Homo sapiens: one gene and its partner. The protein of the gene in region 2 purifies or fractionates together with the protein of the main gene of each other region. This does not show direct contact. Each region holds a gene or a part of one and is shown on either strand. Other genes may lie near its edges.

Region 1 (3,497 bases), on a different chromosome or scaffold from region 2:
AGATCTTTTTTGCTGTAGCTAAGTCAGGAGAGGGAGGAAGGCATCATTTAACTCTCTTCCCTTTTGTCTGTCCATGAGAATGAGACAAAAACAGGATTCCACAGCCATACCAATCCTGATTAGAAGGATGTAGAAACCATTACACTGCCTGCCACTGGACCAGGAAACTGGGATAATTGTCAGTGTCCTCTTTTGCCCCTACTCTGGGATATTAGATGGCTAAATCACTGTCAATACACCCAGCTGATGAAATGAGGCCCATGGGGCCACCAGAGTTAATATTGGGAATGAATATAGGAACATACACTAACGCCTCCTTTGGTAGACAAGCAGAGTACCAGAGTACCAAGGACCTACTGAAATAGCTCAGGCTTTTTCTTCGAAAAGAGAAAAGGCAGAGCATGTGCAAAGGCCTGCTATTTCTGGCCAGTTTCCTCACTTAAACTATAGAGTAACATCAATATTCATGATGCTGAGGAAGGTTAAGTGGATCTATTTTCTCTTCTATAGTTTGGATCATCTACTTCTTCCTCACCCTGACACTATTTAAAAAACCTTCAGATATAGATATCTATATACCTATATCTATTAGGTGCATTAATTTGTGACATACTCCCAGATTTAAAGAGAAAAGTGTCAGAGGGGGGGAAAAAGTACAGAAGCACAAGTTTATATTTATTTAATGCTAAGAACACAGATATTCTAAAGAGATAAACAGAAAGTAGTTTTATTTTTTCTAAATAGGATTTTGATCACAAAAATGCTGGTGATTCAAACCTTTAAAACAGAAGAGCATACAACCTAAGAAAAATGCAAAACAGGCTACAAACCTGTACATCATGTTACTGCACTGAATACTGTAGGCAACTGTAACATAATGGTATTTGTATCTAAACACAGAAAAGGTATAGTAAAAATACAGTATTATAATCTTATGAGACTGCCAACATATACGTGGTCTGTCATTGACCAAAACATCATTATGTAGTGCATGACTATTAAAATTGTGCAAAACAAACCCCTGTATCCATAGTGTTTAAACCATAAAACCAATACCTGGTATATACATGACAAAACAAAGCATGTAAAATAATATGCAGCCTAAAGAATTCAAAGACAACAAAGGTGACAAAGTCAGGTAAAAGAAAGGCAATTAGGGACATAAGATATTTTTTAAAGCAGGAAGCTGATGATGTCCACTGTAAGCCTGGAAGAAACCAGGAGTCTGAACACGGAGCAGTTACTGATAGGAAGGATAAAGTGCTACATCTCTAACAGCAAGCAAATTAACTCTGCTGAAATTGCCAGAATGAAGGCCAAGGTGGTTTTCAGTAAAGAGTGTTCTCCTTGACAGCATAGCCAGCATGTGGTTGAGCCGGGACCTGATACCAGCGAAGTGGAATTGCCGCTCTTTGTTCAAGTTTCTAAGTGAGTCACTCAAGTACAGTTCCAGGTGGGGGGTGCCCAGGTACTTGGGATAGCCAGGATTGTGGAAGTCAGTGGTTCTGATGGAAGCGGGAGAACCAGTGGAGCTTGCCACAGAGCCTTGGGAAGACACAGAGGAGGAAGACTTCAAACTGGAAGATCTCGATACAGACATTTTTGAGACTGGTGACCCTTCTGTAGATTGAGTTCCTCGAGGAAAGAGAATGTTCTCATCCATGTCAGTCTGAGTAGTGGTCGATCTGGACCAAATCGTGGTTTGAGAGCTTGCTATCCTGGTGATGACTGCAGTCTGGGTACCAGCACATGCTGTGGTGATGCTGGTTTGTGTTCCCACCTCACTCACACTCAGCCCTGGCATCTCCTCTCCTGGCTCTGTTTGAGTGGCAGCGTCAATGGCCTTTCTGCTCTGGAGCTCGTCCCTGTGGCTGCTGAAGTAGTCTTCCTCACTAACAGTAGAGGACTCACAGTCATGGGGCTTGCGCTCTGCCTTGCCCTCTGCGGGCATCTCTGGGTCCAGGTCCGCCTTCCTGGGAGTACTTGACAGCCTAGCCAGCCGCATCCGCAGCAGGTTGCCCAGGGTGAGCTCCTTGGACTGTGGTTTTCGGTTGGTGAGGTGATCAAACTTGTTGCTGCTCTGGAAGTGAGACAGGAGTTTGGGGCTGATGGGCTTGGACTGGGCATACAGGATTCGGAACTCCAGATCAAAGTGTTCAACCACTTGGCCAGACAGAATTACCAAGTTACTGCTGTTTAATTTGCCATCCGTCCATGTAAAACTTAAAGATTAAAAAGAAACAAACAGCAGCTGGTAAGGATGAGCAATTTTGTTTTACTCACTGTCCATCTGAATAATATAGTACAGGTATCTTACCACATAAGGGTCACAAATTTGGTGATATCATACCTACCATTTGCATGTATTTAACTAGCCTTAACACATATATAACATTTATGTGTGTTACCATAAAAGTAAAAAGGCCAACTGTTTAACAAACACACTAAATGCTCAGCCTCAGAGGGTTTTTTTGTTTGTTTGTTTGTTTTGAGACGGGGTCTTGCTATGTTGCTCAGGCTGGTCTTGAACTCCTCGGCTCAGGCAGTCCTCCCACCTCATCCTTCCAAAGTGCTAGGATTACAGGTGTGAGCCACCTCACCTGGTCCTTGCCTCAGAGTTTTTAAAAACTGGAAAGGGGGCCAGGCGCGGTGGCTCATGACTGTAATCCCAGCACTTTGAGAGGATGAAGTGGGCAGATCCTTTGAGGTCAGGAGTTCAAGACCAACCTGGCCAACATGGTGAAACCCTGTCTCCAGTAAAAACACATAAAAAATTAGCCAGGCGTGGTGGTGCATGACTGTAATCCTAGCTACTCGGGAGGCTGAGGTGGGAGGATTGTTTGAACCCCGGAGGCAGAGGTTGCGGTAAGCTGAGGTCACACCACTGCACATTCCATGACTGGGCGAGATTCCATGACTGGGCGAGACTCCATCTCAAAAAATTAATTAAAAATAAAAAATAGGGCTTCTAAATATTTAGGCCAGCATCCCCATTTTAAAGGTAAGAAAACTATTTAGGCCAGCACCCCCATCTTAAAGGTAAGGAAACCAGATAAAGGGATTATCACAGAGGGGAGCTACTGCTGGACTCCAGATCAGACCCTAGGCCCTATGAATTGCTAATGCCCTGCTCCTTGCTACTGTTTGAGTGGCAACATCAGTGGCCTTCCTGCCCTCAAGCTTGTCCTTGTGGCTGCTGAAGTAGTCTTCCTCACTAACAGTGGAGGACCCACAGTCATGGGGCTGTGCTGCCATTTTCACAAAACACCATGGCTCAAAACATTTTAGAGCTGATTAGTGGCCATGTGCCCTTGCCTGTACGGTGTCCCTTCCCCGCCTCCCTCCTCTGCTAGCAGAACTCACACCCACCTGTACCCCAGAAAGCTTTCATTATCATACTCTCTCCAACCACAATAGGGGCAGGCATGTGGTCCACACTGGCCAGAGTATCCTATTCCCTTGGATGCAGGGATTCATTCAGGGTGGGCATGTGATCC
Region 2 (7,307 bases):
CCATTTCAAACACACGAAAAAGGGCAAGAATGGCTTTATTTTCATGCTTTAAAATATCTTGACACGGAAGATGTAAACACAGACCACCAATGAGAACTTGCTTTGGTCAATCTTACCTTTGAAGAACTAGGACAAGCCATTCCTACCAGGCCACCACCAAAGACAGGATATGGCTTTTAGATCCACAATTTTAACAAAATATGCAGACAGAAAAGAAGCCACTATAGAAAATTTAGGACTTTATCCATAATTTCAAAATTGGAAAGTCCAATATTAAAAAAAAGAAAAATGTTCCACACAGTGGCACTTGCTCAATCTCTTTATTTAGTGGCACACATGGAATGAATGAATTAGCTCTTACTTGCGGCATACTTAACAAGTCTGATCTTGCTTATAGAAATTGGATCTTAATACTTCATTCTCAGAATACTTCAAAACGTAAGCCACAGTTTTTCTTTCAAGGATGTGGGAAGCATTCCTCATTCAAATCTGATTAATGGTTTTATAAAGTATGTACCTCATTTTTATTAGCCATTATCTTCATGCTGGATTCTAATATTCTTTTTAATGGTGATCTGTTCAATGACAGAAACTTATAGAGAGAAAATTCCTTCTCAATTTATAAACAAAAATTTTAAAAGCAGCATTTTTGATGTGGTAGGAAGATATTTATGACAAAAGCAGCTACTGCCCTAAACTGGCAAAAACAACAAAAGAACAAATTGTTATTTAACCTTTAAATAACGAGTCTCTATTTGCTATAAATCTACAAATATTTTAAATATATTTCCTCCTACTGCAATAAAAATTAAGATAACTCTCTGTTTAACGGCTTTTGAAGAGTTAATTTTATAAGGAAATAAAAAAGATTGACTTGCCTCCTGAATGTCCAGTGATAAACTGAACCCTAATTTCCCTACCTCAACAACATAAAAATGATGTAAAGTGGATCAAAGTATGTAACAAGTTAATATTAAAAATGCTTCTTCATATGGTCTTTCACTAAAATAATCAACGTAAAAATAATGTAAAAATGTGTTTTTGCTTGAAGATTTAGTGAACGTTCAAGGAATCACAATTTTTGAGCTTTTACATCCAGAGTACTATACTATGTGAAAATACTACAGTGCCTCATATAAAAAAGCACAGTGATAAAATTCCAAATGTAAAATTGCCAAAAATCAATAACAACTACATTCTCCATAATCTTTCCTTATCTAAAACCTCAAAGCTATCCATCTGTTTTAGTGGTTTGAGTGAGCACTGAAAACAAACATGTTTATTCAGGTTTAAAACTAAATTTCTCCTCTTGAAATCTGGAGGCAAAGATAGTAGAGACACTTAAGGTAACTCTGTCCAACTTCTTAAGCCCATGTATGGAAACAGTCTACAACATCTCATTATGTCAGCATTGATGCACCTTCTTCACCAGTGGCATCTTGGGAAATATGAAGGTCTTCAAGCATCTCAGCCAGACTAATTCGAGGTGCTCCTTCATCATCGGTGTCACTTTCCACAGGGATGGCTGAATCTAAAAAAATACAAAGAGAATAAAATAAATACAAAGTATTTATATGTATACAAAGTATTAAATATATTTGAAAATATACAAATATCTACCTTATCATTATTATTATGTAACTACATTGTATCAGAAGCTCTTGTCTCTTACAGCAGTCATTCAAATTACATTCACTGAACAAATGAACTGAGTAACTGTAAGAATATACTTCCACCACTATAGGAGTGAGCAACTTAAGGGATCAAGCTAGAATGCAAATAATACTAACTGTAATATACAAAACAGTATTTTGTTAAGTTTTATTTATTGTTTTGCAAGTTTTTTTGTAGAAGTGTGACTAGAGTAGTTGAAAAAACAATTAAAGACATTTATGAGAATCAAAGCTTAAGATACCAAAATATTCATACTAGGAACTATACTTATATACAGAACAAATGACTTAAACACTCCTAGAACACCAACCTCTGTAAATGTTGACATTTTTTCGAATTGCCTCATCTTCTTCAAGATCTTCAAGAAAATCTTGGTATTGCCTTTAAATAAACATTTAAATATTTCATCACCAAAAATATAGTTATATTTTCTTCATTTAAGGACTTTCATTTTAAGGACTATGTAGACATACTGCTGTTTCCAACTCACATTTCATGAAACAATTTTATATAAACTCTCAGTTTTTTTAGACATCGGTGTCTTCACCATCATTAAAGCCACTTTTTGAATCATCCAATAAACTGTTTTAGAACACTGTCTTCATTTCTGCTTAAATTATTTGAGGAATAACACACTTGGCATCAATGAGCTGTTTCCTTTTTATCTCAAGCCATAAGTACTCATCTGCTATTTGTGATATTCATAATGTAATTATTTATTATAAAGTCATGTGCCACATATTCTATGATGCTCACACAACAAAATCACCTAATGATGCATTTCTCAGAAGGTATGCCCATTGTTAAGCAAAGTATGATTATATTTTAACTTTTCAAATGAATTGTTTACATTAACACTACAATTATTAGGTCATAAACCAGGAAATAATTACTAAATCTGTGTTAAATGTCTTTACATCATCTTATACTGATTCCATTAATACCTTGATAAGAATCCAAGATTATAATTGAGTGCAAGGATCAATTGTGTGATGCCTATTTCTTTACAACATAAAAAGTATTTATCATAAATATTTCCTTTGAGACAACATAAGAGATTTAAAGAAAAGCGAGACCTTTCATCATCTGTATCCATGTTTTCTCTCTCTCTTGCAAGCTCTTTCAATTTCCAGTTTCTACGACGCTGACGTTTGGTCCGGTCATAGCTCTTCTTGATTAATACCTGCAAGATAAATATTTGTAAAGTTACAAAGAATGGGAACTATACAGTGAGGCCACAAAATTCAATAAAGCTAAAAAATGACCAAACTAATGACACTGGTTACACCTCAGGAGAAAGGAGAAGGGATGGAGAGACAGTGTCAAGAGGACTTTTAAAATTTTTCTCCATGTATTTAACTTTTTATGAGAATGGATTCAAGCATTATTTGTACAATTGTTAAAATTTGCTAAAATTTTTCAGTGACTGAATACTGTTTTTCTTAATAACAAAAACTGTAGTTTTCTTTTAACTCAAACTTCAGTTTTCAGCTACCATTCATATAAATCATTCTGAATATCACAAGTAGATACTTTTTTTCTCTTATACCCACCAATAAGCATTTACAGAACTATATATAACTTTCACAACAATGTATCTTAGAACGCTTGTTTAATAAATTATAGAATGAAAATAATTTTACAAAATACAAAATATTGTAAGATTGCCATGATCTCCTCTTATGACCTTGTTAGAAATACCTATTTAGACTTACACTCCAACCACGCTGTTAATTCCTAATTTATCAACTAATAAAAGTACAACTGGGCAGGTGGTCGGAGTCCTTGATTTGTCATGGCTCTACTTTTTTTGCTCACTGCTAAAGAAATCAATGTTTATTCTAAAAGATTAAGCAAGTATAGAAGACAGGGTCTTTCACACTAATTTCATTCAGTTTCTCATGATTCTTAACCTCATCATGTTAGAACTTAACAGATTTTTCAGAATTAATAGTTTTTTTCCAAGGCTTGATACTGTGAAGATTATTTTTCACGGATATTTTATTCAGCTTTGAATAACAGCCTTAACTCTAAATGCCTTCTTAACTGAACAATGTATGTGAAACGAAGTGAGCCTAATAAAAATGAACCTGAAAAAATGCTAAATGTCATCATTTTTAGCTGCAAATTTATTTATTTATCTTTTGGAGACGGAATCTTGCTCTATCACCCAGGCTGGAATGCAGTGGCATGATCTTGGCTCACTGCAACCTCCACTTCCCAGGTTCAAGCAATTCTCCTGCCTCAGCCTCCTAAGTAGCTGGGACTACAGGTGCATGCCACCACGCCTGGCTAATTTTTTGTATTTTAGTAAAGATGGGGTTTCACTGTGTTTTCCAGGCTGGTCTCGAACTCCTAAGCTCAAGCAATCCACCCACCTCAGCCTCCCAGAGTGCTAGGATTACAGGCATGAGCCACCGCACCCGGCTAAATTTATTTTTGCTCTACAGATAATATCAGGTATTTTGATCGAGAATGAAAATGTGATTAGAAAAGGAACAATCACAATAAATCTTGGATTTACCCCACCAAGAAAAATTATTTAAAATGAAGCCAGGCATGATAGGTGACACCTGTAATCCCAGCTACTTGAGAGGCTGAGGTGGGAGGATCACTTGAAGCCAGGAGTTCGAGACCAGCCTGAGCAACATAACAAGACCCCGTCTCTACAAAACGTGTTTTAAACATTAGCTGGGAGTGGTGGCATGTGCCTGTAGTCTCAGCTACTCAGGAGGCTGAGGTGGGAGGATTACTTGAGCTCAGAATTTTGAGCTGCAGTGAGTGATCATGACACTGCACGCAAGCCTGGTCAATAAAGCAAGACTCCCATTTCTTTTTTTTTTTTTTGAGACTGAGTTTTGTTCTTGTTGCCCAGCCTGGAGTGCAACGGCGCAATCTCAGCTTACCACAACCTCCACCTCCTCGGTTCAGGCAATTCTCCTACCTCAGCCTCCCAAGTAGCTGGGATTACAAGCTTGCACTACCACGCCTGGCTAATTTTTTTGTATTTTTAATAGAGACAGGGTTTCTCCATGTTGGTCAGGCTGGTCTCGAACTCCCAACCTCAGGTGATCCACCTGCCTAGGCCTCCCAAAGTGCTGGGATTACAGGCTTGAGCCACTGCACCCAGCCTCCTGTTTCTTTAAAAAAAAAAAAAAAAAATTTTGCTATTATACCTTATCTGCAGTTTCAGAAATCTCTAAATTGATTTGTTATTTTCAAAAGTGTGAACTCCTACCTCTTACCCCTAAGAGTTACATTCATCCTCTTTAACACAGGAAAAAAGGGAAAAATCTAAAGCCTTACCACATCTGGAACTCTATCTGAGTTCATTTTGTTGACATGCTCATCATTTAAGTTACAGTTGGCCAAATCAAACCTGAAATGTAAACAATGAAAAACTTAGTGACCATTTACCCTTTGTGTGTAACTTTTTATTTTATGGCTATCACCTAAAACTTCCTAAAAATCAAACATTTAATATGCTTCTCACTTTAAAAGTTCTGTCATTTATTACACAATGAACATGCTTCTGTAGATGCTGGTAAAGACAATAAGGAACTCTGAGTTTCACTTATAATCAATTATTGTCCACCTTGCCATACATTTGTAAAAGCAAAACAGACTTACATATCAGTCCAACTTTAGAATTCAATTAGTTGCTTCCTTCTAGTTTATTTTAAACAAACAAACAAAAAAAAAACACCTCATTCTGTAGTAAAAGAAACTGAAATCCTAAAAGCAAAAGCAATATTTGAGGGTTTAATCACACACTCACTGAAAAACTCTGATTCAGAAAGAACTGATCTATGCCTTTACAAGCCCTTTGTATATATATAGTTGTCATATCTTAAAAGTGAGTTATCTGAGCAGTAGCAACTGCACAATAAAAAAGACCCAATCTGCAAAAGCAGTTCTAAATATGGATACAACCATATAACTTCAAGGCTCAATTAACAAAATCTTACAACAAATTACTCTTTAAGATTATAACCAAAATGGAGTAACTATGGGCTTCTGTCCAACCCAGTTTAATTTAGTTATCAACAATAAAATGAGTTATAAGGCTCCTAAGAACCCTTCGATCTTTTTAGAATAAACAATGTTAGTATTTTTAGGTAGTTTTGCTGGTTCCCAAAGAAAATTTGCAATCCTAATTGGCAGTTTAAAATATGAAATAATACAAACCCTAACACCAGGTCTCCGGGATTTAGAAGATGTCCCAAATGAGTACGACAAAAATACTGTTTATCTGTATTCATTTCAGATGTCTTCTGTACCCAGACTTCCCCGAGGGTATGCTTAAGAGGAAAGAAAATGTACTCTTCAATAATCTAAACATAACTCTAAAAGCATCTCAGAGAAAAGTTAAATACAATATTGATTTTTGGTTTTCTAATTTTTAAAGACAGAAAATTTTTTGTATTTTTCTGATGTATGAAACACTGTCAAAATTAACAAATTACTGAATCATGAGTATAGAAAGACTCACAAACAATTCATAAAAATAAATCATTGACTTTTTCTAAGATTTTATTCAAGACTTTTATAAAACATTAATAATGTCCCTAAAAATATATATATGTAGAATTTTCAAAAGAAATGTTTTCACAGGAAGATGGGCCAACATAGGCAGAGTGAACAAAATAACTGAAAAGGTAGGGGAATCTTAAAGCAAGAACGTATTCCAAGCAAACTCTTGCTTGACACAAGGGTTCAGAAAATCAGGGTCCAGACAAAACAGCCTAGAAATCCTGGTAGTAAACCACTAGAGAGGCCAAATCTTTATCAAATTAATTTTTAAAGTATCTACTAGTGTAGACTACAATCATTCTCTACATCTGCTATATATAATATAGTACATCTGCTATATATAATATATATATAGCAGAAACAACATCCCAATTTTTAAACTAGAAAACTATTAATTCCCTTTCTAACATGCCAACACCTTTAACAACAAAGACAGACCAACTGAAGTGAGATCGAGAGAAAAATACTAAGAGTTATAAATAAAATTAAGGAATCTCAAAATAAAGTTATGAAAAGAATCAAGTGTTTCTTATTGCAGTTGGTCAAAGAAAAAGAAATGAAAAAAATGAAAAGAAATAGAGCAGAAGGAGAAACTGAAATAAAAGACAAGTCTCAAACTTAAGAACTGCAAAAGAAAAGTCAATTAACAGGGAGACTACATTTTATTTAACAGGATTTACTTTCTAGCTATTAGACTTCTGCTTGTAAGAAATTTATTAACCTCTTCTAGCTATTTTTTAAAAACCAAGAAAATACAGTATCTGGTTTTATATCTGCCTGAAGGGAAATGATACTCTACATTTATTATAAATGAAAAGTTTGCCCTAAGTACATTACCTTAATTTATAAATAAAATGTAGAATGTCATCTGTCTTCCATTTCCATTAATTTTTCCCAAATTATCACAAGTTATTTTTGTCTCAAGAAGCATTATTAGCACGCACACACACACACACACACAAGGGTACCCTGGGAGTCTCTAGATACTATTTCACAGTAAAAGAAGCCAGACTTTCATCTTTGAAGAAACATTTGATTTCAGATATGGGTTATAAACTATACATGTGATTCTGGAACACCTGAATGCTGTGTTGCACCAG

Evidence for each region.
Region 1: the proteins of NMD3 (region 2) and FAM83D purify together in Homo sapiens (affinity purification with mass spectrometry; 2 studies listed by BioGRID and IntAct, with this or other methods). This does not show direct contact.

Annotation. Positions count from the first base shown.
Region 1 is NC_000020.11:38,950,264-38,953,760, reverse strand, and holds the end of FAM83D (protein FAM83D), read right to left. Parts: intron 2,223-3,497; coding exon 1,241-2,222; 3' UTR 655-1,240; downstream 1-654.
Region 2 is NC_000003.12:161,245,004-161,252,310, reverse strand, and holds the end of NMD3 (60S ribosomal export protein NMD3), read right to left. Parts: intron 5,976-7,307; coding exon 5,863-5,975; intron 5,054-5,862; coding exon 4,981-5,053; intron 2,858-4,980; coding exon 2,751-2,857; intron 2,056-2,750; coding exon 1,985-2,055; intron 1,532-1,984; coding exon 1,401-1,531; 3' UTR 4-1,400; downstream 1-3. UniProt on the Homo sapiens protein: Acts as an adapter for the XPO1/CRM1-mediated export of the 60S ribosomal subunit.